Regions from separate parts of the Homo sapiens genome. Here all the other regions are linked to region 3. The links come from fine-mapping of genetic effects on gene expression. A gene starts in region 3. Each other region holds a variant in brackets. All regions are shown on one strand. Distances are between the middles of the regions. Region 1 overlaps SULT4A1 (sulfotransferase family 4A member 1). Region 2 overlaps EFCAB6-DT (EFCAB6 divergent transcript). Region 3 holds the start of SULT4A1 (sulfotransferase family 4A member 1).

The links.
Region 1: its variant is fine-mapped to the expression of SULT4A1 in testis (GTEx, PIP 0.96).
Region 2: its variant is fine-mapped to the expression of SULT4A1 in cerebellar hemisphere (GTEx, PIP 0.96).

Annotation. Positions count from the first base shown.
Region 1 is chr22:43,822,886-43,830,900 of GRCh38, reverse strand. SULT4A1 (sulfotransferase family 4A member 1) reads left to right here. Exons shown (of 7, transcript NM_014351.4): 6 at 1,703-1,841; 7 at 4,788-6,392. The coding sequence ends at 4,900. Among named protein-coding and RNA genes, the nearest start is that of EFCAB6-DT, 14 kb to the right of the region's middle. RefSeq lists an enhancer at 2,153-2,915. The variant T/G (reference allele first, on the strand shown) is at 3,974.
Region 2 is chr22:43,812,733-43,820,747 of GRCh38, reverse strand. It overlaps EFCAB6-DT (EFCAB6 divergent transcript), which reads right to left. Exons shown (of 2, transcript NR_186822.1): 1 at 7,764-8,015; 2 at 2,846-3,834. Among named protein-coding and RNA genes, the nearest start is that of EFCAB6-DT, 4.3 kb to the right of the region's middle. RefSeq lists enhancers at 91-732, 7,036-7,837. The variant CTAA/A (reference allele first, on the strand shown) is at 4,188.
Region 3 is chr22:43,858,643-43,866,657 of GRCh38, reverse strand. SULT4A1 (sulfotransferase family 4A member 1) reads left to right here and starts at 4,145. Exons shown (of 7, transcript NM_014351.4): 1 at 4,145-4,444. The coding sequence starts at 4,276. RefSeq lists an enhancer at 5,830-6,329.

The DNA.
Region 1 (8,015 bases), 36 kb after region 3:
TTACTCCAGAAAACTAGCCCCGAGTGAGCATGGTTGTCTCCAGGACTGTGGTGTGGGTCCATGTGTTCTCACCCTGGGGTTGAGAGGGAATGCTTCCTGCCAGAGCGCTCACTGCCTGCGCTCCACTGCACCGCAATTACAGTGGCCCTTTCCCACGAGCCGGGCACTGTGCCAGGCACCCCGGGTATATTCCCACTTCATCCTCAGTCATCTTGCAGGGTGTTCTCACCAGTCACGGGGTGCCCTGACTGCAACCGTGTGGCCAGCTAGTACCTGCCCATGTGGAGGCACGACCCCAACACGCTGGCTCCGTGCCGTGGTGTGCGGCCTCTTGCTGCGGCCCTGTCGCTAGTTCCAGATGGGGAATGTGTGGCTCAGAGAGGTGAAGTGGGCCGTTCCTGCCAGCTGACCTGGGCGTTCTGCCTGATCCCTGCTGGGTTTCATAACCAGCAAGTGTCCTGTGACATGTTGCTGGATGTAGCCTGGCAGAAACGCCCCTTCCTCTGAGATGGACGTCACGCCGCAGTGAGCTGCCCCACGAGGATTCTGCTGAACGCTCCAGCAGGCTGACTTTAAGCCAGCTGTGTCCTTCTTGCGGCATCTCTTCTGAGAGCCAGGTTTCTTCACTCTTTCTCCATTGCTACCCTTTTTCTTTGAAATGGAGTTCTTGGTGGCAGGGCAAGGGAAAGGGAGCTCTGTATTCCTTGGCTCATTCTCTAATAACTGTTCCTCTGACTCTTGAGTCAAGCCCTGCGCCCGGGATGCACCACACCCCTGCCTGTGGAAGGCAGTGCGAGGCCAGAATCAGACCTGCAACCGCTGCTGCAGGAGTCAGCGCACTGTGGGGACCCAGGGAGGAGCTGGCGCCCACACCAGCTGACTCCCACACCAGCGGTCAGAGAACATTGTCTTTTAAGGTTTCCGAAGTGCTGCAATAAAGAAATTAAATCATCTTTTCACTGTAGGACTTTTTAGAGGCTTTAATGCGGGAATTTGCTTTACAAACCTTCCAGAGAGGAAACAGCCTCCAGCATCTTCCTAATGGGACCAAGGCACCTCTAGGTGACAGCTCAGGGCTGTGATTGAGAAGACGAGGAGCCTCATCTCTTGGGGAGAAAGTGGCAGGGGTGGGGGGCTGGGGAATGGCCCCCTCAAGACGGTTAGCCACATCAGTGACATTCCGCTGTCAGGCGTGGTAAAATAATGGGGCAGGGTATGGCAGGCATGACGGAATCTTGCCTGTGATGAAGCGGGCTCCCTGCCCAGTGCAGGGCCATCTGGAGACCAGAGGGGCCTCCCTGCGCTCCCAAGGGCCAGCCCAGACGCCAGCTGACAGGCAGCAGGAAGGGAAAGAGGAGCCCATTAGGTCTTGCTCCTCACAAGAACCATGTTCTGAAATATGTTTTTTACTTCTTGCTCCTGTTAAAACTTAACCACACCTCTATTAAGACCTCATGTCTGCAACCCAATTCCCTGGAGGACCAGGGTTTGAATTCAAGATCTCCACGTGAGAGCTGAGCACACTTGGGCGATTTCTTAACCTCTTAGTGTTATTTCTGGACAAGGCTGATGTCAGCCTTGTGAGCATTAAGTAAGGAAGGCCGTGTGTAAAAAGTCCTCAGCGTGTGCCCAGCCTGGGGTCGTGTCCAGTAAAAGGCCCCGCCTCTGATGGGCTGCTCTGCTCTCTGCACTTGTCTTCCAGGACCTGGTGACGATGGTGGAGCAGCTGGCCAGATTCCTGGGGGTGTCCTGTGACAAGGCCCAGCTGGAAGCCCTGACGGAGCACTGCCACCAGCTGGTGGACCAGTGCTGCAACGCTGAGGCCCTGCCCGTGGGCCGGGGTACGTGCCCCACCCTGCCTCCCGCCCAGGCACTCCCCACCCCAGCCAGGCTGCTTTCTCTGCCTGCTTAGGGAGCCGAGTCCGGTCCCTGTTGCCCTCCCTGCTCTCCTTTTACAGCAGTCTGTAGCTGGCCCATGGCCTGTGCTCTGTTAGCTGGTGCCCATGGATGGCACAGTGCTCATGGAGTGACGGAGTACCCTGCCCGCTGGTGTTTGCATTGCCTCCAAGCAAACAGTGTTTTGACTTGAAAAAGTGCATTTCAGGCTTTGTGGGCGGGATGTTTCTCAGCAGGGAGTCTACTCAGATGGCCTGAAATCAAACGCCCCACAGAGCAGATCCAGGGACTGGGTTTGGTGCTATGACATGTCAAAGCGCAAAGCATGCTGATGGGTTTCTCAGTCTCTAACTGACTTGTGGGAGAGTTAAATGAAGTGGGCGGGAAGTTAGGAGACACCGTTTTTCTTCCTTCACTGAGTGGACGCTGACTGAGCATCTTCTGGGTGCAGGCAGCACAGGTGAGGCCTAGCCCCACTTCGGGGTGGTGAACTTAAGCAGACAGTACCAAGCTAAGCCGCTGCACAGAGGGAGGCCAGTTCCTGCTCTTGGCGGCAAGTGACAGTGGGCATGAGGCAGCTGGAGATGGGGACAGTGTTCCTGACAGGAATCCTCCCCAGATCCACCTGGGTTGCTCCCCCTGTCCTTAAGGGTGTGTGGCATTTGGCTTTGATGATGGAGAGCCCAGGCTCTAAAACCCCTGAATCCCAGGGTGCTGGCCTTGGCCATAGGAGGCCCCCTGTTGGTAAGTATGAACCTGATGGACACTTGGTGTGTTGGGCACTTCCTGGGTTGAGAATGTTTGCAGGGAGGGCCCAGAAACGTGGATGGCTCTGTTCAGCAGCAGCCCCACAAGATGGAGTGGGAGATGCCTGGGGCGGATGAGAGACGCGCTGGGCTCCAGCTCAGCTCTGCTGCCCTCTGGGAACGCAACATAGGTCAGGCCTTCAGCTTCTGCGGCTTTTTGTTCTTCTCTGAAAAGGGGCTGATCACGGCTAAGGGCGGTTTGAAGGTCAAGTGCAAAGTGCCGTCTCTTATAAAGGCAGAGCAGTGGACTCCTCAGGAGGAAGTGAACTGAACCACAGTCCCTCTCGACTTCTTTCCTGGCTGCATTTTCATAAATATTTGTTATTTAACATTTATTTGCTCTTTTTTAGTTTTGCTTTTGCTGTGTTTTGTTATCCTTGGATGTGACCTTCTCCAAAATACCCCTTTTGGTTCACGTGTGTGTGTGTGTGTGTGTGTGTGTGGTGAAGCAGCGTCGAGAACATACTGTGTGCCCATATGCTCCTTCCCTTGGGTTTGCTTTATCATGGTTTACCTTGGTTTTGCTTTATTTCAGTTCTTTGATTTGTTTTCTTTTAGCACATTGCGTCTTTGCTCGGAAGATCTTCTTGAGTTGGTGAGAATGCAGGGCCGAGTAGCCAGCTGCATTGCTTAGATTTGATTCATGTCACAGCATAAATTGTCTTGATTCCAAATCCTAAACCAGGTGGGTGACTCCTCTGACGAGCTCTCAGCTGTCTCAGCTGAGAAAAATAATCATGGAAAAATAGTTTGGTTGCTCTAGCAGCTTCTAATTTTGCCCCTTAGGTATCATTAAAGGGTTACAAGAATAATTTTTCTTGTTTTTCTCTCCAACACTGATAATTTTTTGTTACCAAAGAGAAAGTCCGTGTTACGTTGGGTATTTTAGCTCAGCATTTGCAGGGTTGCAGTTTGAAAAACCTGAGGTCCTGCCTGGACAAGGACCGCTGTTAATAACGGAGCTAGTGAAGGACATTTGCTGGAGACAGAGCTCTGATCTCAGAGAGCTGACAATGGAAAGAATTCTAAACGAGCAGTTCTTCAAAAGCAGGGAGGCAGTACTCGGGTGATGTGCTCACAGCTCCCATAACTGGGAAGTTTGGAATCCCCGCCCCAGACATCTTCACGGTCACCGTTGCTATTGGACTAGACCAACCTAAGATTTTATATTAACAAAGACAATGGGAGCAACAACTTCTCTTGTCATGTTGAGCTGTCTTTCGTTTTTCCAAAGCCTTCATAAACCAGCGTAGACCGGTGCCTGCAGTTTA[T/G]CCCACAGCTCAGCCCTCCCTTGTGGCTGCCAGGAAGAGGTCTGGGTTTCTGACTAAGCCTGGGCTAGAGCAGCTGGGGGCTGTGCCCAGACTCATTTTATTGTTGACTCAGGGAATTCTCACTGCAGTGCATGTTTTGCATCTAGTCTGTAAAGCTAGCTAATGCTGCGACTATTTGATTCACTTTAAATTCCTCCCCAGGGTTTGCCAGGGCAGGCTTCTTGAAATCTGCATCTTTGGCCCAGTCAGGAGGGCTTCCTACTTAGTGTAAAATTTTCTGCACTTTGAATGATTTTTTTTTCCTTTTCAAATTCTCCCGAAGCCAATGACGCCTTGGTGGCACTGTTGAGCTGTGAGTGGATAATGGCGTGGGAAGGGCCAGGGCTGCCTGTGATGCCCAGAGCAGTGCACTCCCGCGGCAGATCATACTCGCTCCTGGGATGTTTATTAAACACCTGCCACGTGCCAGGTGCCGTTCTAGGTGCTGGGGACCCAGCACTGAACAGGAGTAGAGTCTCCCTGGTGGGCCCCAGCGGGGGGTGTGGAATGGCACCAGGAGGTGGTTGTGGCTCACTGTGCCACAGCCTCAGAGGGAAGCTGGTTCAGGTCATGTTCTGCCGCATCCAGTAGTTTCACAAATGTTAGGGGACCACCTGGTCTGTAGCTCAGACGGCCCTTCCTGCCCCCATAGGCCAAGTTCAAAGGGATCCAGGAATAGATCTGGAATGTTCCAGATCCATTTCCAAGGCTTCCTTTAGTTCAGTAGCTGGCCGGACAGCAAGTGGCCCCAGCAGTTCTCTTGTTTGCGTTTCAGGAAGAGTTGGGCTGTGGAAGGACATCTTCACCGTCTCCATGAATGAGAAGTTTGACTTGGTGTATAAACAGAAGATGGGAAAGTGTGACCTCACGTTTGACTTTTATTTATAATAACAGAAACAACAACCTGCATGCTCACAATACCCAGACAGTCTACTAGCCAAAAGTCCTGTATGCATTCATTTATTCCTTGCTGGACAAACTCTGGAAGCAGCGTGTGAAACAGCGGGGGAAGGGAAGAGCGGCGTGAGCGGAGGGAGTGTGATGATTCCCAACCGAAAGCAGCTGTCTCGCCTTTAGAACGTGCAGCCTCTCCATGTCTGATTACAAACAGTCTCCACATTGCAGTTCCAATGGCCTGGACCGTAAGGATAAAGCCTGTAATATATGCAACTAGAATGTCTGCCTTTTCAACCCCGTATTATTGTATTTTATAGAGCTTTTCACTGGAAATCTACATAAATGTCAGTAAACCAAATAAAAGTTCATTTCCAAGGGGAATCAGGAGCGAGCCACACCCGAATGGTAGAAAGATCTCAGGGTTAACTCTTTATTTTTGTAGTTTTATTATCTAAGGCACAGCCATTCTGTTCTCACTTGGTTCTGAGATAGTGGTGAGAACAGAGGATGAGTTGGGTCTGTTGGGGGGAATCTGGACACTTGTTTATTCTGACGGAGTTCACTTCTTCAGAACCTTCCTGAAATGAGCAGAAATTGTTCACTAGGTCTTCAGAATGGACGTCCTTCTGCCAGAGACTTCCAGCGGGCGGCTCCAAAGGCCCAATGCAGAGGAGCCCGCGGAGCATGTGCTGAGGGAAGTCTGCCTGGTGAGGCTGGCAGGTGGGAGTCTAATGCAGTCAGGAGCATTTGCATGCAGTGGGTGGAGAGTCGGCCACCAAAGGACCGAGTTGCGCTCGGAATTTGAGCTGAATTCCACAGCCTTACTTTGTTTCCTGAAGTGATAGCCTACTAATGCTGGCAAGCAGATGCTTAATAGTAAATTTCTAAAATCCCCGGGTCTTTATCATTCAGTTTGTTCTGTGCACCTGAGGCGCTCAGCCGTGGGAGGACCATTTTGCGAGTGTAGCCCTGTTTCACTCGGATCAGGTTGGCACGGCCGCCTGCGTGTCTGTCCACCTCATCCCTCCGTGTATCTGAGGGAGTAAAGGTGAGGTCTTTATTGCTTCACTGCCTAATTTTCTCACCCACATTCGCTGAAGCGATGGAGAGTCGGGGGCCAGTAGCCAGCCAACCCCGTGGGGACCGGGGTTGTCTGTCATTTATGTGGCTGGAAAGCACCCAAAGTGGTGGTCAGGAGGGTCGCTGCTGTGGAAGGGGTCTCCGTTCTTGGTGCTGTATTTGAAACGGGTGTAGAGAGAAGCTTGTGTTTTTGTTTGTAATGGGGAGAAGCGTGGCCAGGCAGGTGGCACGTGGCATCGCATGGTGGGCTCGGCAGCACCTTGCCTGTGTTTCTGTGAGGGAGGCTGCTTTCTGTGAAATTTCATTTATATTTTTCTATTTTTAGTACTGTATGGATGTTACTGAGCACTACACATGATCCTTCTGTGCTTGCTTGCATCTTTAATAAAGACATGTTCCCGGCGTTGCGTCGAGCGTTTCTGCTTGTGGGGGTAGAGGGGTCCCTGCAGCGGTGCTGTCGGTGCTTGGGACAATATGACTGTGGGCCCCGTTGACACCCCATTCCCTGGGGTTGACAGCAGAGGGAAACAGGCCCGTGTTGGGCTTTGATGAAGCAGAATTCAGACTTTCCAGGGGTTCACTTCTCCCCATTATTTCACTCAAATTCAGACTTTCCAGGGGGTCAGTTCCCCCACTATTTCCTCATTCACCTCTGATCACTTCTATAAATGGGGTGGAGGAGAAAGGGTAAAAGCATGGGAGATGCGGGTGCACCTGTGGGTCCAGGTGTCGGGACCTCCCAGTCTCTGCCTGGGAGCCCTGTGTTCAGCGTTGCGCACTGTGGTGCCCGAGGCCGGCCCCTCCAACTGTGCTTCCCCACTGGGAATTCCAAAGCCTGTCTTCCTGATTTCCTGTGGAAGGAGAGTCCAGGGCATTGCTTTCCTTGAGAAAGCTCGAGCCTTCTGGAAAATCATGTTTATTTTCAAATGAACTACCTCTAGGTCTCAGGTGAAATTCTAGAAATTATTTTGGCACCTGGAATTAACACAGACCCTGGGTTAATCAAGTATCCAGTCTGCTGTGCCCTAGAGGGCTTGCCTTCTAGTAATTTATTAACCACATCAGTCAAGCAGCCAGGATGCAGTCAGTGTGCCTGGAGCCCAGGCAGCGCCTGTTTACCCATGTCCACTCTTCCCTGCGTGGTGGGTGACTCACCTCACTTCATGGAGTCGGTCATTCGACTGCACCTGCTCCATGCCAGGCACTGTTCCCGGCACTGTGGATGCGGCAGGGGACAGAGAAAGCCCTGCCTCTGTGGAGTTTGCATTCCAGTGGGGTAGACAGGCGACAGAACCCAAGATCAGTTCAGGCCCAAGCGTGCTCTAAGGGGATAGGGAACATGCCCGTGGAAGAATGGGGGGGCCTCTGAGGAGATGGTGCTGAGCAGTGGGGGGCCTGGCTGCAGCTGGGTGGGCAATGCGCTGGCAGGCACTCGGTTTTGGAGGGGTGGCTGCGAGCCAGCTGGAGGGCCTCACAGGTCATGAGATTTCAGCTTTTGTACTAAGATAGGGAGCCATGGGAGGGCTTATTCAGAAGAACGCCACCTGCTTTGCATTTTTAGAAGCTCTCCTGGCTGCTTTGTGGGTAGACTGCAGGGGCAAGAGCGAGTGGACCTTTGTCCCAGCTGTGAGTCACTCCATCTGCAAAGTGAGGTGGGCACTGTCTGAGAGCATCTCCAAGGTTTCTTAGGGGTCTGCAGTTGCAGGCCTTCGTGTGCTGGCTTCTGAGCATGGTTCTGGCTGTGCTCACCTGGAGCTAAGGCAGGGAAAACAAGCCAAGGCAAAAGGTGCTGTGAGGACTGTGAGGGAGCCAGGGTCAGGAGGAGGGAGCCATCAGGTTGGCAGTTGCATGGGAGTGCGGGTGGGATTTGAGCTGTGTCCTGAGGTTGAGGGTCACCTGGACAGGCAGGGAATGGGAGAGAGTCCTGGGCAGCCCTCAGCCTAGTCCTTTGTTATTTTACACAACAATCCACAGAACATTCCTGAATGTCAGAGCCCTCTAAGCGTAAGCCAGTGGTTGCCTGGTA
Region 2 (8,015 bases), 46 kb after region 3:
AAATGAGGACAGAACCCTTCCCTGCCGGGAGTCGGGCGCCAGCTCCAGTGCTGCTCTGTTCCTATTTGTGGGACTGCAGGGAAGGTCCCTTTTATGTCATAATGAAGAGGTCACAGACCAGGTGTCCTAAAATTCCACCCAGCAGGAGCATGCTGTGCCTCTTAAGTGTGGTCACAGTGTCCAGCGACTCAGCTCCAGAGAGGAGCTGATGGGTGTGGGAGATGCCGGCTTTTCAGCCGATGACAGGCCCGGCCGGCAGGAGCAGAGAGCCCAAGGCAGAAGCACCTGCCACCCAGTGTGGGCCACGGGCACCGTCTCCAAGGCGTGCTGAGCCTTTGCCAAATCCACACATCAAACGACAATTTGATTCTCACACTTGGATCCCTGAATGCTAGCTGGCACTGACTGTCTGAGCTACAGCCCTTAAATCTGTCTCCTCACCACTGAGGAAAGGAGTCTGTGCTCTATTAAAAGCATTTTTTAAAAACCAGAGAATGCTAAATGTGTTTGAAAAATAAAAACCGACCAAAAAATACATTTTATCCCTCTTTAGAGTTGTTATCTTCCCATATATTCGTGGTGCTGGGCACCAGCTGGGAATGCAAGTCTGAAGACTGTGTGAGCAAGGCCCCCTCTGCAGAAGCAGAGACCGCATTGGAGCCAGCCAGAGACTCTTCCCCAGTCCACGCATCCCCAGACACTGAAGTGAATGGTTGAGGGCCTTTTCCCTGTTTCTGTCTCTCAGGTTGACCCTTTACAATCCATAGTACATGCAGTTCCCAGATGGGGAAATAATCTCTCAGATCCAGTTTGTGGCCTGGCACCCATCTCACTGCCAGAGAACCACGGCTTGTCTGTGCCCTCCGTGTCCCAAGTATGCACTTCCCTCCGCCTGGGTTGCCATTCCCCGACTTGACCCAGCTTACACTGATTCAGTGCGATCCAGGCACGATCTACTCCAAGACGCCCTTGGGCACAGTCCAGGCATGATCTACTCCAAGAAGCCCTCTGCCAAGGGTAGGAGCTCAGAGCTCCACTTTTGGTTAATATTACACCTCCCTTAACATATCCCGGATACACGGCCATCTGCCGGGAAAGCTTCTTGAGGCCAGGGCCATGTCTCTCTCACTTTCCTTGGCATCAGGAACTTAGCACAGAAGCAGTGCTCCGTGAAGCCTGATGGCTGGGAGCATTCCCAGAGTCTGACGGATCCAGCCTTGCCTTGTCATGTCAGCTGTGTCCAGCTGCCTCCACTGGCTATGCACTTGGAAGGCCCTCTCTGGCCCAGCCACACTGCTCACTCTGAGACCTTGACCTGCACTTCTAACGTTCGCTTCCCTAACTGCTATGGACCGTTTGGCCCCTTGGAAAGCCTTCCCCGTTATCTGTAGGTGCTGCCAATCCATGTCCACCACATGCCTTGGGCTGGTTTAAAAACGCAATCTCCTGGGGGCTGCCATGAATGAATCCCAGCTCACTGCCATCCTGGACACAACTAGGCCTCAGTTTTTACCAAGGACCTTAGGGGGGGGTCACCAGATCTGGCAGACAGGCTGTTTTTCAATGGGTGATGGCTGCCTCCATCCTGCGTCTCCATCACGCCCGGACTCTGCAGAGGAAGAGAAGGCCGGACCGTTCCTTAGCCCACAGAAGGCGTGACTGGCATATCTTCACTCCCATCATGAGACGGGATGCAGAAACGCATATCTTTTTTCCTTAGAAGTGTGCCAGCAGTTAGAGCCTTGAATTCGGAAAGAGTGATGATTCCCTGTAGTGGTATATCGGTTTGCATTTGCTAACTGCTTTCAAGTTTTCTTTCCTGAGTAGATATTTCTAGTCCAAGTAGGCTGTGAGCAGAGTCTGTGCCTCATTCATCCCTCTGTTCCCATACTGTGCATTCGTTCCTAACAGGTAATCCATAAATGCTTGTTACCTAACTAAAGGCAAATTAAATGCTAAACAGCACTAATGACAAGCTGTTGCAAGATCCCGGCTCTCAGGAAAGAATTACTTGTGGTTGTCAGGGGCCTGCCTGTTGCCCAGGTGTAGGAAACATGAAACACTTCTTTCCCAACTGCTTCTCTATTCCAGAGGTGGTGCATTCTTCTAAGATTGCTGCAATATAATGTTTGGGAGGCAGGTTTCATTAAAATTATTTTTTGAGACAGAGTCCCACTCTGTCACCCAGGCTGGAGTGCAGTAGTGCGATCTCAGCTCTCCTTAACCTCCACCTCCCAGGGTTCAAGCGATTCTCCTGCCTCCGCCTCCTGAGTAGCCGGGATTACAGGCACCTGCCACCACGCCTGGCTAATTTTTGTATCTTTAGTAGAGACAGGGTTTCACCATGTGGACCAGGCTGATCTCGAACTCCTGACCTCAGGTGATCCCTCCGCCTCGGTCTCCAAAGCACTGGGATTACAGGCGTGAGCCACTGCGCCCAGCCAGGGTTCATTAAAATTCTAAATATCAGTGTTCGACACCACGGAATCTTGTTCAGGAGCAACATAAGTGGATTTTATTCTTCTTTCCGTGAAAGGAAACAACCAGTAGCTATTAAAGGAAATTAAGAGCTTAATAGTATATCAGTCTCTTAAAGGGGAAAGAGAACATGCCTAGGTGCTTTGCTGAGCCTGTGGAGAGCCGCTCTCCATGGAGGATCCTCAGATAGATCCTCAAATGGCCCCCTGTTTACAAGTAATCATCAATTATTTGTAGTGACAACGTTTAACATGTGCAATTTAGTTTCTGGCTGATTGAACTAAAACGAGCAGCTGCGTCATCTGTCAAGGTAAATATTCGAGAGATAAAGCAGCTATTTTAATAAAGAAAAAATAACCACAGTAGCTTTTCCAAAAGAGCTACTTATACCTCATTTATTTTTATGTCATATTTTTTTTTCCTCCTCAGGACAGCTGAAGAGAATCTTGTCTCCATTTTATGAGACTACCAAAAGGACAGCAGTCAGGGAAGCAGATTTCTGAGAGGGAGAGGCTCTCCGCTTCCATGTGGACACGCTACGCATCCCTGCCACGTACTTGCTCTTCTTCCCTTCTTTATTAATAGACATGGTGGAAACCAGTACTTAACTTCTTCGTGGCTAATCAGCCCCTACTGTTTCTTTCTCCACATGAAGGCATAATCTGCATTCGTAACATCATCACTGATGCCTGTGAGATAATTACAGGCTCGATCTTACGGCCCAGTCTCTTAGGTGTACAGAATTGTGGTGAAAACCAGCTCCAAGCCCCCAAAACCCGCAGGGTGGGCAGAGGGTGATTGTCACCCAGGTCTCCATGATCCCAGAGTTTCTTCTTGAATACTGAGGGAATGGACCATCTGTTGCATATAAGTGTAAAGATATTTTCTCCAGCAATTCATGGTTTCCTTTTCAAGATTCTCATCAAAGGTCTTGAGCAGCAGACTCATGCCATGGGTGTAAATAGTACAGATGGTAACGGTTCCTCAGGAGGTGAGTTTACTGGCTTCAGTGATGCTGAATGGTATCTAGGAAAAGGTAGGACCCTCACCCACCAAATCCAGGCTTCAGCCTGTTGGAAGTGGACCCACTGCAGGGCACCTAAGGGAACCATCAATGTCTTCTGGGAAGTTTTTTTCAGAGAAGACAACAATCTCCTCCTACAAACTGTTCCTTGGGGCCACTGTCACATTATACAACTCTGGTCTGTTCCATCAAAGATCAAACCTTATTGAATAGATTTTAGGGGCTCATCTAGATAATAAATGAGGGAAATTTCAGTTTCTGTAAAAATTAAATCTGCACATGGAGGTGAGACGTTTCCTGGAACAAGGAAAACCCTCTGGATTGAAGATGATCTTTAAGGAGAAAAAAGAGAGAATCACGTGACAAAACTTCATGATGGACTCATCTAATTAGTCATTTCAACATATAGAAAAATTATCCTTGGGTTCAAGGAAATCAGCAAGGGTTTTGAGTTTCTGGGTTCTTGGCTACATTGATCCAGTTGTACACCACTTATGTGTGCGTCACTGTTACTGTTGTTTTTTTTTTTTTTTTTTTTTTGAGACGGAGTCTCGCTCTGTTGTCCAGGCTGGAGTGCAGTGGCGCAATCTTGGCTCACTGCAACCTCCGCCTCCCTGGTTCAAGCAATTCTCCTGCCTCAGCCTCCCAAGTAGCTGAGATTACAGGTGCCCACTACCACGCCTGA[CTAA/A]TCATTGTAGTTTTAGTAGAGATGGGATTTCACTATGTTGGCCAGGCTGGTCTCGAACTCCTGACCTCAGGTGATCCTCCTGCCACAGCCTCCCAAAGTGCTGGGATTACAGGCATGAGCCACCGTGCCCGGCCTGCTTCACTGTTGAGAGCAGGCCAGTGCAAAAGACATTAAGGTATTCCCTACTAGAATTCCATGTTTGCCCACACAGCCAGACATTGGCCAGGGTTTATCACCTAAAATTATCCCTCAGGTTCTTTTGGATTGAAGATGCTTCCAGGACTGTGAGACAATACATTTCTGTTGTCCAAGCTGCCCAGTCTGTGGAAATTTGTTACCGCAGCCCTATCTAATACAACTCCCTTTCTCAGATCCACTTAAACTGTGCACGTTTTGCCCCAATTGCTTTATTATTTGCTATCTATCAATACATAATTTTTTCAGAAGCATTTGAAAGTAAGTTACAGGCTGGGCACAGTGGCTCATGCCTGTAATCCCAGCACTTTGGAAGGCTGAGGCAGGCAGATCACTTGAGATCAGGAGTTCAAGACCAGCCTGGCCAACATGGTGAAACCCTATCTCTACTAAAAATACAAAAATTAGCTGGGCTTGGTGGTGTGTGCCCGTAATCCCAGCTACTTGGGAGGCTGAGGCAGCAGCATCGCTTGAACCCAGGAGGTGGAGGGTGCAGTGAGCTGAGATCGCATCACTACACTCCAGCCTGGGCAACACAGCGAGACTCTGTCACAAACAAACAAACAAAACACCAAAAACCATTAAAAAAATGGAATTATCTTTATTTTTTTTTTCCTAATGTCTTCTTATGATAGGATTAGGTGATGCATTCCAGATTAGAATACTACAGCAGTTGCCCTTTTCAACGGAGGTTGTCCTTCACATTACATCTGAAGCCACACAATGTCCATGCTCCTTGTTGGTAGTGTTAATTTTTATTATGGTATCCAAGCATTGTCCATTTTTCTTTTGTATTATGACTACTTTTTCTCCTGTAAGTAATAAGTGATCTGTGGGACTATCCTTTAAAACAATGCAAATATCCTGCTCCCCATCCAAAGAACCCCGAGATGAAGCACCCGTGAATGATCCTTGCCTGAATCAATCTTCACTCAGTGGTTGCAACATGATGGCTTTTCAGCTCTAGTCCTCCTGCATGACCATTTGTCCCTAGGCCTGCTACTGCAAGCACGTGCCCTCCCTTGTCCTGCATTTATTCTATCTGTCCATCGCTCCTGGGCCTGGACTCATGACTCCTATTTCTTTTACTGTCCTTCATTATTCTGGCCAGCAGGAGCCCCATTCAAGCTGGCTTCTGGGCTTTGTGACCATAGCGATCCTGGGGGGAGAATGAGGTTGAGGTTGTAGGATGGTCCCAGTGGCCCTGCATGCTGTTTTAAAGATTTTTATTTTTAGCATAAGAAGGCTTTTAAGGCAAGGTAGTGCAGGGGAACTTGGAGAGAATGGATGAGATTGCTACCATGTACGTATTCTGGTGTTAGAATCGACAAGACTTGCTGAAGCACTAGATATGGGGTATGAGGTAGTGATCATTGAGGGTAACAACAAGGCTTCCTAGTTTGAGCATTGCTTTGGAATAGGTGAGTGCGGGCAGGCACAGTAGCTCACACCTGTAATCCCAGCACTTTGGGAGGCCGAGGCAGGCGGATCACGAGGTCAGGAGTTCAAGACGAGCCTGGCCAACATGGTGAAACCCTGTCTCTACTAAAAATACAAAAATCAGCTGGGCATGGTGGCTCACGCCTGTAATCCCAGCTACTCGGGAGGCTGAGGCAGAGAATTGCTGAAACCTGGGAGGTGGAGGTTGCACTGAGTCGAGATCGCACCATTGCACTCCAGTCTAGGCGACAGAGCAAGACTCCGTCTCGAAAAAAAAAAAAAAGTAATAGGTGAGTGAGGGAGGTGAGTGGATCAAGGGCAATATGGATGGCTTAAGTCTGAGTGATCTCCAGTACATTCCAGTAGAGGGGTCAAGGCTGGTGAGAAGCATAACAGCAGGACCTACGACAGGGTCAGAGGGGCCCTAACATCCAAAGGCCACACAGAGGAGGGAAGTCACCAGTGGGGCCCAAGAATTGAGTAGTTGGTGTGGTATTAGAGAAGCCTGAAGTATTTCAGGCAGAAAGGAGTGATCAACTGGGCTGAATGCTACTGAGAGGTCAAGTAATGTACGGCCAAGTAGAGAAGAAGTATTTGTGAGAATGCCAGTTACCAGGCAATGAGAGTCACGCTTCTGTGAAATTTGGTAACTGAAAGACAGCATGTATAGACAGCTCTACTGAGAAGCAGGTTAAAGAGGAGCAGAGAAATGGGGTGGAAACCAGAAGATCATCTATTTTTTTTTTAAAGATGTGAGATACTAGAGCATGTTCCAAGAAGGAGGGAAAGAGAGAAAGAGAAAGAATGAGACTCTTGGCTATCATGAGAGAGGGAATAACTGAAGCCCTTTTGATCTCAGGACCAAACTTTTTGGCCTCAGGATCCATTCACACTCTTAAAAAGTATTGAGGATCCCAAAAAACTTTTATTTATGTTTATATCTATCAATATTTACCATGTTAGAAAATACAATTGATAAAAAATTTATTAACTCATTAAAAATAATAAACCCATTAGATGTTAACGTTCTCTAATGAAAAATTACACTTTCCAAAAAAGTGAAAAGAGGGGCAGTTTTCTATTTTTGCAGATCTCTTTAACATCTGGCTTAGTACAAGACCGCTGGATCTCTTACCTTCTTTTGCATTCAATTTGTTGCAATATCACACATCATGTAGCTTCTGGAAAATCCCCCCATATACTTATGAGAGAAAAACAATGAAAAAGCAAGTAAAGTCTTAAGTGTTATGAAAGTATTTTTTGGCCCCATGGACAGTCTGAAAGGGTCTCAGGATCCCCAGGGATTCCCAGACCACACTTAGAGCACTGCCTATAATAAAGAAGGCAAATGGGGAGGGATCCAGGACACAGTTAGAGGGACTGGCCTCTGTAAGAGACCCTCTTTTGGGGCAAGAGGAAAAGAGGCGATGAATGCCAAAGTGATTGTGAAGGAGTGCATTCCATTCTTATGCATTACATTTTCTCAATGGGATAAGACCCATGGTCATTGAGTCCGGTGAGGAAGTAGTGAGTGCGGGAGGTCTGAGACAAGCCATGGGAAAGAATTCTCTTGGTGAACAGGAAAACTAGCTGCCCAGTGAAGTAGTCAGAGTGCCCAGCAGGGACCGCATAGTATCCATCTTTGCAGCACACACCAGGGCACCTAATTGACCTGCCGCAGCCATGTGTGCAAGGAATTCCAAGCTGCACACGTCTGCCTGGCTGCTTCTCTCCCACAGTGAGCAGTGTGGCAGGGTGCCTAAGAGCAAGCTCCATAGGTTCTCATTCTGCTCCTACCCCTGACTGGCAGTGTGTCCTTGAACAAAATGCTCTGTGTGCCTCAGTTACCTATCTGTAAAATGGGAGTAACCACAGCACCCACCTCACAGGGTTGTTGTGAAGACAAATGAAGATGACAATTACATGTAAAGTACATACCTAGGATGGGTGAGTGCCTGGCAAGGGAAGTGCTCCATAGGGTCAGCGACAACAATTACATTCACTCACGTGATTTATGGCGCTTCCACTCGGCCCTCTGTCTTAGTAATAATTCACTCATTTAGCGAATATCAATGGAATGGATGCTTACTGTGGGTATGGGCGGAGGCTGAGGTTACAGCCTGGGCAAAGCAGGCCAGCTCCCGTCCTCACCGGCTGTCTCCTCGAGCAGACAAGCGGACCCAGTGAGAC
Region 3 (8,015 bases):
GTATTTTTGAAACTGCAATTCCCAATTGTTGGTTGCTAGTATGTATAAATAGGATTGTTTTTATTTGTTGGCCTTGTATCCTATGACCTTGCTAAACTCACTTATTAGTTCTAGCAGCCTTTTTGCAAATTCCTAGGGATTTTCTGTTAATAAAGGTTTTTCTTTAGGTTTCTATTCTGAAAAAAAGTTAAATGTATAGAAAAGTTTACTGCAATTGCGGTAGGCAGAATAACAGTCCTCCAAAGATGTCCACATTCCAGTCCTGGGAGCCTGTGAATATGTTATATTATATGTCAAAGTCAAACTAAGGTTGTAGATGAAATTAAGGTTGCTGATCAGCTGATCTTAAAATAGGGAGATTATCTTGGATTATTGGGTGGGTACAATGTAATCACAAGGGTCCTTAAAAGTGGAGGACGGAGACAGAAGAAGAGTCAATGTAAGAGCGATATGGCCAAGCGCAGTGGGTCATGCCTGTAATCCCAGCACTTCGGGAGTTCGAGGCAGGTGGATCAACTGAGGTCGGGAGTTCAAGACCAGCTGCACCAACATGGAGAAACCCTGTCTCTAATAAAAATACAAAATTAGTCGGGCGTGGTAGTGCATGCCTATAATCCCAGCTACTCAGGAGGCTGAGGCAGGAGAATTGCTTGAACCTGGGAGGCGGAGGTTGCAGTGATCCGAGATCGTGCCACTGTACTCCAGCCTGGGCAACAAGAGTGAAACTTTGTCTCAAATAAACAAGTAAACAAAAAGAGTGATACGATGTGAGAAAGACTGTGTCTGCCATTTTGAAGATGGAAAGAGACCATGAGCTAGAGAATGTGGGTGGCTTCTAGAAGCTAAAGAAAGCAAGGAAATAGGTTCTCCCCTGGATCCTCCAGAAAGGAATGCTAGCCCTGCTGACACCTTCCTTTTGGTCTAGTGGTACCAGCATCAGACTTCTGACTTACAGAGCTGAGTTTGTGGTAATTCATTATAGCAAAATAGAAAATGACTACATAATGAACATATATCATCACCTACATTCACCAATTGTGGCTTTTCCCACATTTTCTTTCTCGCTCTCAATGTGTATACATACATGTGCTTGCATTAGGGTTATAATTGTGGTTTTATTTTTGTAAAACCATTTGAAAGTAAGTGGCAGACATCATGATTCTTCACCCCCAAATACTTCCACATGTACCTCTGAGGCAAATGGACATTTTTACATAACCACAGTGCAGTTTTCAAATTTAGGAAATTTAAAATAGAATATCATCTAATCTAGAGTCTATATTCAAATATTGCAAATTATCTCATTAATGTCCATTATGGCTTTTTTTTTTCAGACGGAGTCTTTTTCTGTCACCCAGGCTGGAGTGCAGTGGTGCAATCTCAGCCCACTGAAACTTCCATCTCCCAGGTTCAAGCAATCCTCCTGCCTCAGCCTCCTGAGTAGCTGGGATTATGGTGCGTGTCACCACTCCCAGCTAATTTTGACCAGACCTCACTTACAAAACAAACCCAAAGATAAATGCAACAATTTCAAGATAGTGACCACAGACCATTAAATTCCAAAGTGTGGGGCCCTTCTGAGCACAGAACCCTGTGTGACTCCCCTGGTTGCGTATCCGTGAAGCAAGGCCTGCATCTATGTCCATGTCTGTACTTTTATCTATGTCTATATCTTCATGTAACCGCCACTAAGAGCAAGCTATGATGTTTCCAACACTATGGAGGGTAGGTAACCTTGAGTCTGCTCCCAGTCAACCCTCTTTCCAATGCCCCAGGTTAAGACTATTCTCACCTCTATCACTATAGATCAGTTTTGCTTGGTTTTGACTGTATATAAATAGAATCATATGACATACCATTTTTTGTGCTTGACTTAGTTTGTTCATCATTTTGACTGTGACATTCTTCTCAGTTACATTCCTTTTTTAAAAAAATTACTGTATTCCATTGTATGAATATATCGCAATTTATCTATTCTACTGTTGGGTACGTGGGTTTTTTCCCATTTTTGTCTAACATGCTCAAATTGTTTCCGATTTGACCTATGATAATACTTTCATGTTATACCCTGTGTCCTTCTGACCTATTCCCAACATTTTTGAACTTGCAGGAGTTCAAGACTCAACAAGACATTTTAGGCTCATCTTGTACTTTCCTTGCCCTGGAGTTGGCTTTTTCTCCAAGAAACCCCAGGTTCATTTGGTGAGGGAAGTATTTAGCAAAGATCTGGGCAGTGGGTATGCCTAGTATTATTGAGATATCACTGCCTAAAGGCTTTTCCAGCAAATATAAGAAATAGGAATTTTAAAATATCATAAACTCATGTCAATACCTCCAATTCCAATCCAATACCATAGAGTTCTTCCCTGCCTTCTCGCATTCCCCACTTACATTTTCCTTCTCCCACAGTGAGAACCCTCACCTGAAACATCAGGATATTCATTCATTCACTCAATCCCTCTAGCTTTTGGCTAGATGCCCTTTTGCCATTGGCCTAATTATTCTGAATAAAGGCTGGGTGCTCGGAATGTCCTCTTTCTTTTTTGGAAAGACATCTACAAGCTTCCCAAGTCAGGATTAATTGCTGTTTCCTCTCTCTGTCTGCTATGTACACATGGCCTGCGCTTCTCAGCCCATGTGTATGTCTTTGGTGTCAGAATGCACGTGTCTCACTCTACAGTAAGAAGGAGAGAGTAGGAATAGGTCCCGTCCAGCCACTCTGCTCCAGATTCTTGTTGGTGTAAACTCCTTCCATCTTCCTGGCTACACTACTTAGAGGTAGGAATCATTCTTTTCCTTTACACAGCTGATGATGCTCGGCTGCAGAGAATGAGAGCAGGCTGTGTTGTTTTCATCTTTGTGCTTCCCCAGGCATGTTAGTAGGTGCTTCATATATGTCTGTTGAGTGCATGACTGGCAAGGGGTTGCACTGAGATCTCTAGAACTCGGTTGCTCTCAAATTATAGTTTGCACAAGAAGTGCCTTACTAAATGTATATTTTTGTAATTTTTCTCCATAGATCTGGGGTCCTGGAATTTGCAATCCAACACTCCCCTCCCCTACTCATGGGATATTAAGAAGCACTTTTTGGCTGGGCGAGGTGGTTCACACCTGTAATCCCAGCACTTTGGGAGGCCAAGGTGGGCAGATCACGAGGTCAGGAGATTGAGACCATCCTGGCTAACACGATGAAACCCCGTCTCTACTAAAACAAACAAACAAAAAATACAAAAAATTAGCCAGGCATGGTGGCATGTGCCTGTAGTCCCAGCTACTCGGGAGGCTGAGCCAGGAGAATGGCGTAAACCCGGGAGGTGGAGCTTGCAGTGAGCTGAGATCGCGCCCCTGCACTCCAGCCTGGGCGACACAGCGAGACTCCATCTCAAAAAAAAAAAAAAAAAAAAAAAAGCAAAAAAAAAGCACTTTGTTTTTTTGGCTGGACTAGGTGGCCCATACTTTTTTTTTGTTGTTGTTAGAAGATCTCGTCCTGTTGCCCAGACTGGAGTGCAGTGGTGCAAGCTCACAGCTCACTGCTAATTTTTTTTTTTGTATGTTTGTAGAGATGCGGTTTCACCATTTACCCAGGTTGGTCTCGAACTCTTGACCTCAGGAGATCCGCCCGTGCTCGACCTCTCAAAGTGCTGAGATTACAGGCGTGATCCACCGCGCCTGGCGAAGACGCATATTTTTAATAGGACCTAATATTTACCTGAAATTATCTTGGTTATTTACCAATGTAAGCTCCAACAGGGCCAGGCTTCTGCTTGCTTCTACCCTGACGCGTGTCGGGGCCCTGGCCCAGTGCCTGGCACAGATCAGCAGCGCGCTAAGCACGTGTTGAATGGACGACTACCTTTCAGGGCCTTCCAGCCAGGGTATCTCATGCGTCTGTGTTGAGCGCTTGCTGAGTGACAGAAGCTATGAGCGGAATGAACGCACGCACGACTGAGGAGGCTGCAGACCGCGGGCCAGGGTCTCTGTCAGCCCCGGCAGCGGGTGGGTGACCCCGGCCGGGGGCGGGGCGGGGAGGACGCGGCTCCGCGGCGCCATGACGTCACGCCCGTGCAGCGCCGCGGCCGCGTGCCGGGCGGCGCCATGACGTCATACCCGCGGAGCCTCCGCCGCGCGTCGGCGGCGCCATGACGTCACGCCTGCGGAGCTGCCGCCGCGCGCCGGTGGGGCGCGAGCGTGTGCGGGGCGCGGGCGCGGGCGCGGGCGCGGGCGCGTGCGGGCTGCGAGCCGGGAGGCGGCGGCGGCGACGGCGACGGCGGCGGCATGGCGGAGAGCGAGGCCGAGACCCCCAGCACCCCGGGGGAGTTCGAGAGCAAGTACTTCGAGTTCCATGGCGTGCGGCTGCCGCCCTTCTGCCGCGGGAAGATGGAGGAGATCGCCAACTTCCCGGTGCGGCCCAGCGACGTGTGGATCGTCACCTACCCCAAGTCCGGTGAGCCCCGCGCCGACCGCGCCCGCCACGCCATGCCCCAGCCCTGCAGCGCGGCCGCGTAGACGCCGCGCCCGCGCCCGGGGCTTCTGCTGGGCCGGGTGGTCGCCCTTGGCCTCCGCCCCTGCCGTGCCCACCGCTCTCCCGATGCTCGGATCCCTGCGGGGCGGGGTGGGGTGGGGTGGGGGTGGGAAGGGGCTTGGTTCTCATCTGGGGAAACCAAGGTCAGAGACCTTCGGGAGCGGCCCCTTCCGTGGAGATGGAGCCTATTTGGCCGGCGCTGCAGGAGGATGGGCCCAGGGCCGCCACCCATCCCTGCTTCTCCCTTTACCTGGCTGGCTGTGTGACCTTGGACAGGTCACTCAACCTCTCTGTTCCTGAATCCTGCCCAACCTTTGATGAGTGCAAAGTCCTGGTGTTCACCTGGGAAGGGAGATAACATGGGCGTCAGGGCTTTCAGCGTGGAAACGTAACGTCCCTCCTTTCCAGCCTGGGCTCCGGGTGGGGGATGGGACCAGTCCCCGCCTGGAGTGCCTTGCTTGTACATTCTCTTGTTTCAGGGCTGCCTCCATCACCGAGGCAGGACCTGGGGCATTCACATTTCCCAGCATTAGCTGACGTCACTTTCACAATAACAGCTGTGTGAGCTAGTGGTGGTCATTCCCACTTTACAGTCTAGGCACAGAGGCTCAGAGAGGGGAAGAGGCTGGTCCAAGGTCACTCAGCTGGTGAGTGGCTGACCTGGGAATTAAAGCTAGGCTGGTCTGTTTCCAGACCTGAGGTAGGAGATTGTATAGTACCCCATCTGAGGTTTTTAGGGAAAGGAGGTAGCAGCTTTCCTGTTCTGTAAACATGCCCTGGGATTTCCTTGTTGCCACTGTATTTGAGGCAATCACAGCGTGGTTTAGAAGGTGTCTGGCTCTAAGGTCACGCCGGACCAGCAGTCGGGCAGTTTCAGGAAAAGCTGTAGGCTTGGCTGTTGTAGCTGTATGGAGTTCCAGACACCTGAGGGCAGGTCTCTGACATTCTTCTGAGGAAGATTGGAGTAGGGACTCTCAGTGGAGGGTGTTGGTTGGAGAACAGAGCGTTCGATGGGCTGCTATCTTGAGCACATGCCAGTCGCCGCATGGGGTGGGACCTAAAATGCTTTAGGAATGGCTAAGCGTGTCGTTGGCTTCTGTGGCCACTCATTAAGTCCTGCGGGCCAAGTGCTCTATCGCTGTTAATCTGTGAGGGACTCTTACACCTTTTTTTCAGAGGCTCAGAGAAGGCACAAATTGTTCGGAGTCACACAGTTGCTGAGGGACAGAGGTCAGGTCTAGCTAGGTCTCCCGGTCCACGGCCAGCCTCTCCCCTGCCTTATGGGTGCTCCGTTGCCCTTGGAAAACCGTGAGGGCCCAAGAAGGAGGGGGACCTAGCCTTCTTTCTTGGAGGCTTTAAAATGCTGGAAGTCTCAGCCACTTAGGGATTTTGAGGTTTGTGTCACTTCTCTGAGGCCCCTCCAAGTGGACTTCTGGTAGCCCAGTTCATATTTTCTTTTCCTTTCCTTCCATCTGCTACTGGGGATGGATTTGTAGCAGGCATCAGTGCTTACACATTAAGAACCTGGCTTCGGAGTTGGAAGTCCTGGGTTTGAATGCAGTTTTGCGGCTTACCAGCAGAGTGACCCTGGGCAGATCATAGAATCCCATTGAGCTGTGGTCTCTGCGGAGGGAGAAGAGACCACCTCGGCCCGCTGATGTGTGGCTGTGAGGATGAGCAAAATGGCGGGTGAGAACGCTTAGCCCACGTCCAGACACACGCTGGAAAGGCTCGTGGTTAATGCTGACTTTTAAGCCCTGAACACCTGTTGTGCCCAGATGCTTTGCTAGGGGCTGGGGAAGCCGAGAGGGCCCCATCTGGTGCCTGTCCTTAGTGAGCTCTCAGTCTGATGGGGGAGACATGGTTGGTGCTGGGGTTGGGGCAAGTAGCCAGGACTAACAGGTGCCCCATTCACCTGCCATGGCAGGGAACCCACGGGCCTCCTTGGATTTCCAGTGCCCAGGTGTAGGAGATCCTAATGAACTTGCAGGTGGTCAGAGCCGGAAGGGCCTGGTCCCTTGTCAGCCCCTTCCCACCCTCTGCTGATGGAGAAACTGGGGTTCAAAGGGGTGGTGGGGGCTTTCTGGTGGCTAAGGCAATGATAATTAGATCCTGCCTTCGCTTCCTGTCCGGTATTTTTTCCCACAACCCCGTGCTGCTTGCTCGGATTCTTTTTGTGCTTGCGACATTCTAGCTTAGATGGCGGGTTAGGACTGTGCTCTCCAGCGTAGGACCCTCTGCCCACAGGCGGCTGCTTACATCTAATGAATTAAAATGAAATAAAAGTGGAAATTCTGTTCCTCAGTAGCATCACCATGTTTCAGGTGCTCAGTAGCCACATGGGGCTAGCGGCTGCCGTATTGGGTGGCGCAGATATGGAGTGTTCCCATCACAGCTGAAAGTTCTGCTGCACAGCGCCAGGTAAAACCGTGATCCAGACAGTAGGAGCCCATTGTGTCTTCTGAGAAGGACCTTTCTGTTGATGACCGACTTTGTTCCTATTCATTCTTACAGCGTAGTTGGTCCTGGGACGGTGGTTGTATTAAATCCGATTGTGTCTGTGAAAATATTTTGTCCCTGTGTGTTGGTTTGATGCAATCACTGCCACTGGTTTTGTCAACAGGTTGATTTGAATTGGGTGCTCGTCCCCGAGGGGGCACAGCCCCAAAGTCATGGAGCTTGGGCTTTGAAATACGGTCCCTGGCTCAGCCAGAGCACCCACTGCCCTGAGTTTATTTTGCCCCTGGTTCCGGCCAGTCCTGAAGTGTGTGCGCATTCTCACTGATGCAGACGGAAGCTTCTGGGCCTGGGCGTGGGTGAGCCACCTGGTTTCTTTGAACCTCAGTTTGCTCATTAAAAATGAGAGGATTTGACCAGATTGATTCATTTAAGTCTTACATTTTCAGACAACTCAGGGGTTGAAGCTGAGGGGAGCTGAAGCTGAGGGGAGACTCATGGTGTGCAGGTCCCAGGCTAGATGGATGTCCTAGTTTTCTTGGTGTGTATGTCACTGTGCCTGGGAGAGACAGGTTTCAGAAGGGCTGGGCATGAGGTGATGGTGACCTTGTGGCACTTGCAGTGACATGGGGGAAGCCAGAATCCTAACACTGAAAAGTTAACTGACAAGCCAGGGTGGCTGTTCTCAGGGTCAGGTAAATGGCCTGGTAATGAGGGTTCTGAAGAGGAGGATCTCGGGAGACTGCATGGAGGAGGAGACAGGTTGGGTGGATTACCCATTACAGATGCTGTTTTGCCCTCCACCCACTTTGATTCTCAGGACGGCCCTGTGCTCTTGTGATTATTTCCTTTTTATAGATGTGAAAATGAGGGCCTAGGGAGGACAAAGGGCTGGGGTAGTGGCAGCACCGAGTGTAGATCCTGGAGAGAAACCACCCACAGGAGGGGGTAAGAGAGGCGTGGGGGTGGGAGCTAGCACCTGCCAGCGCTTCCTGGGTTACCAGTTTGTTCTGAGATGAGGGAGCATGCGGAGCCC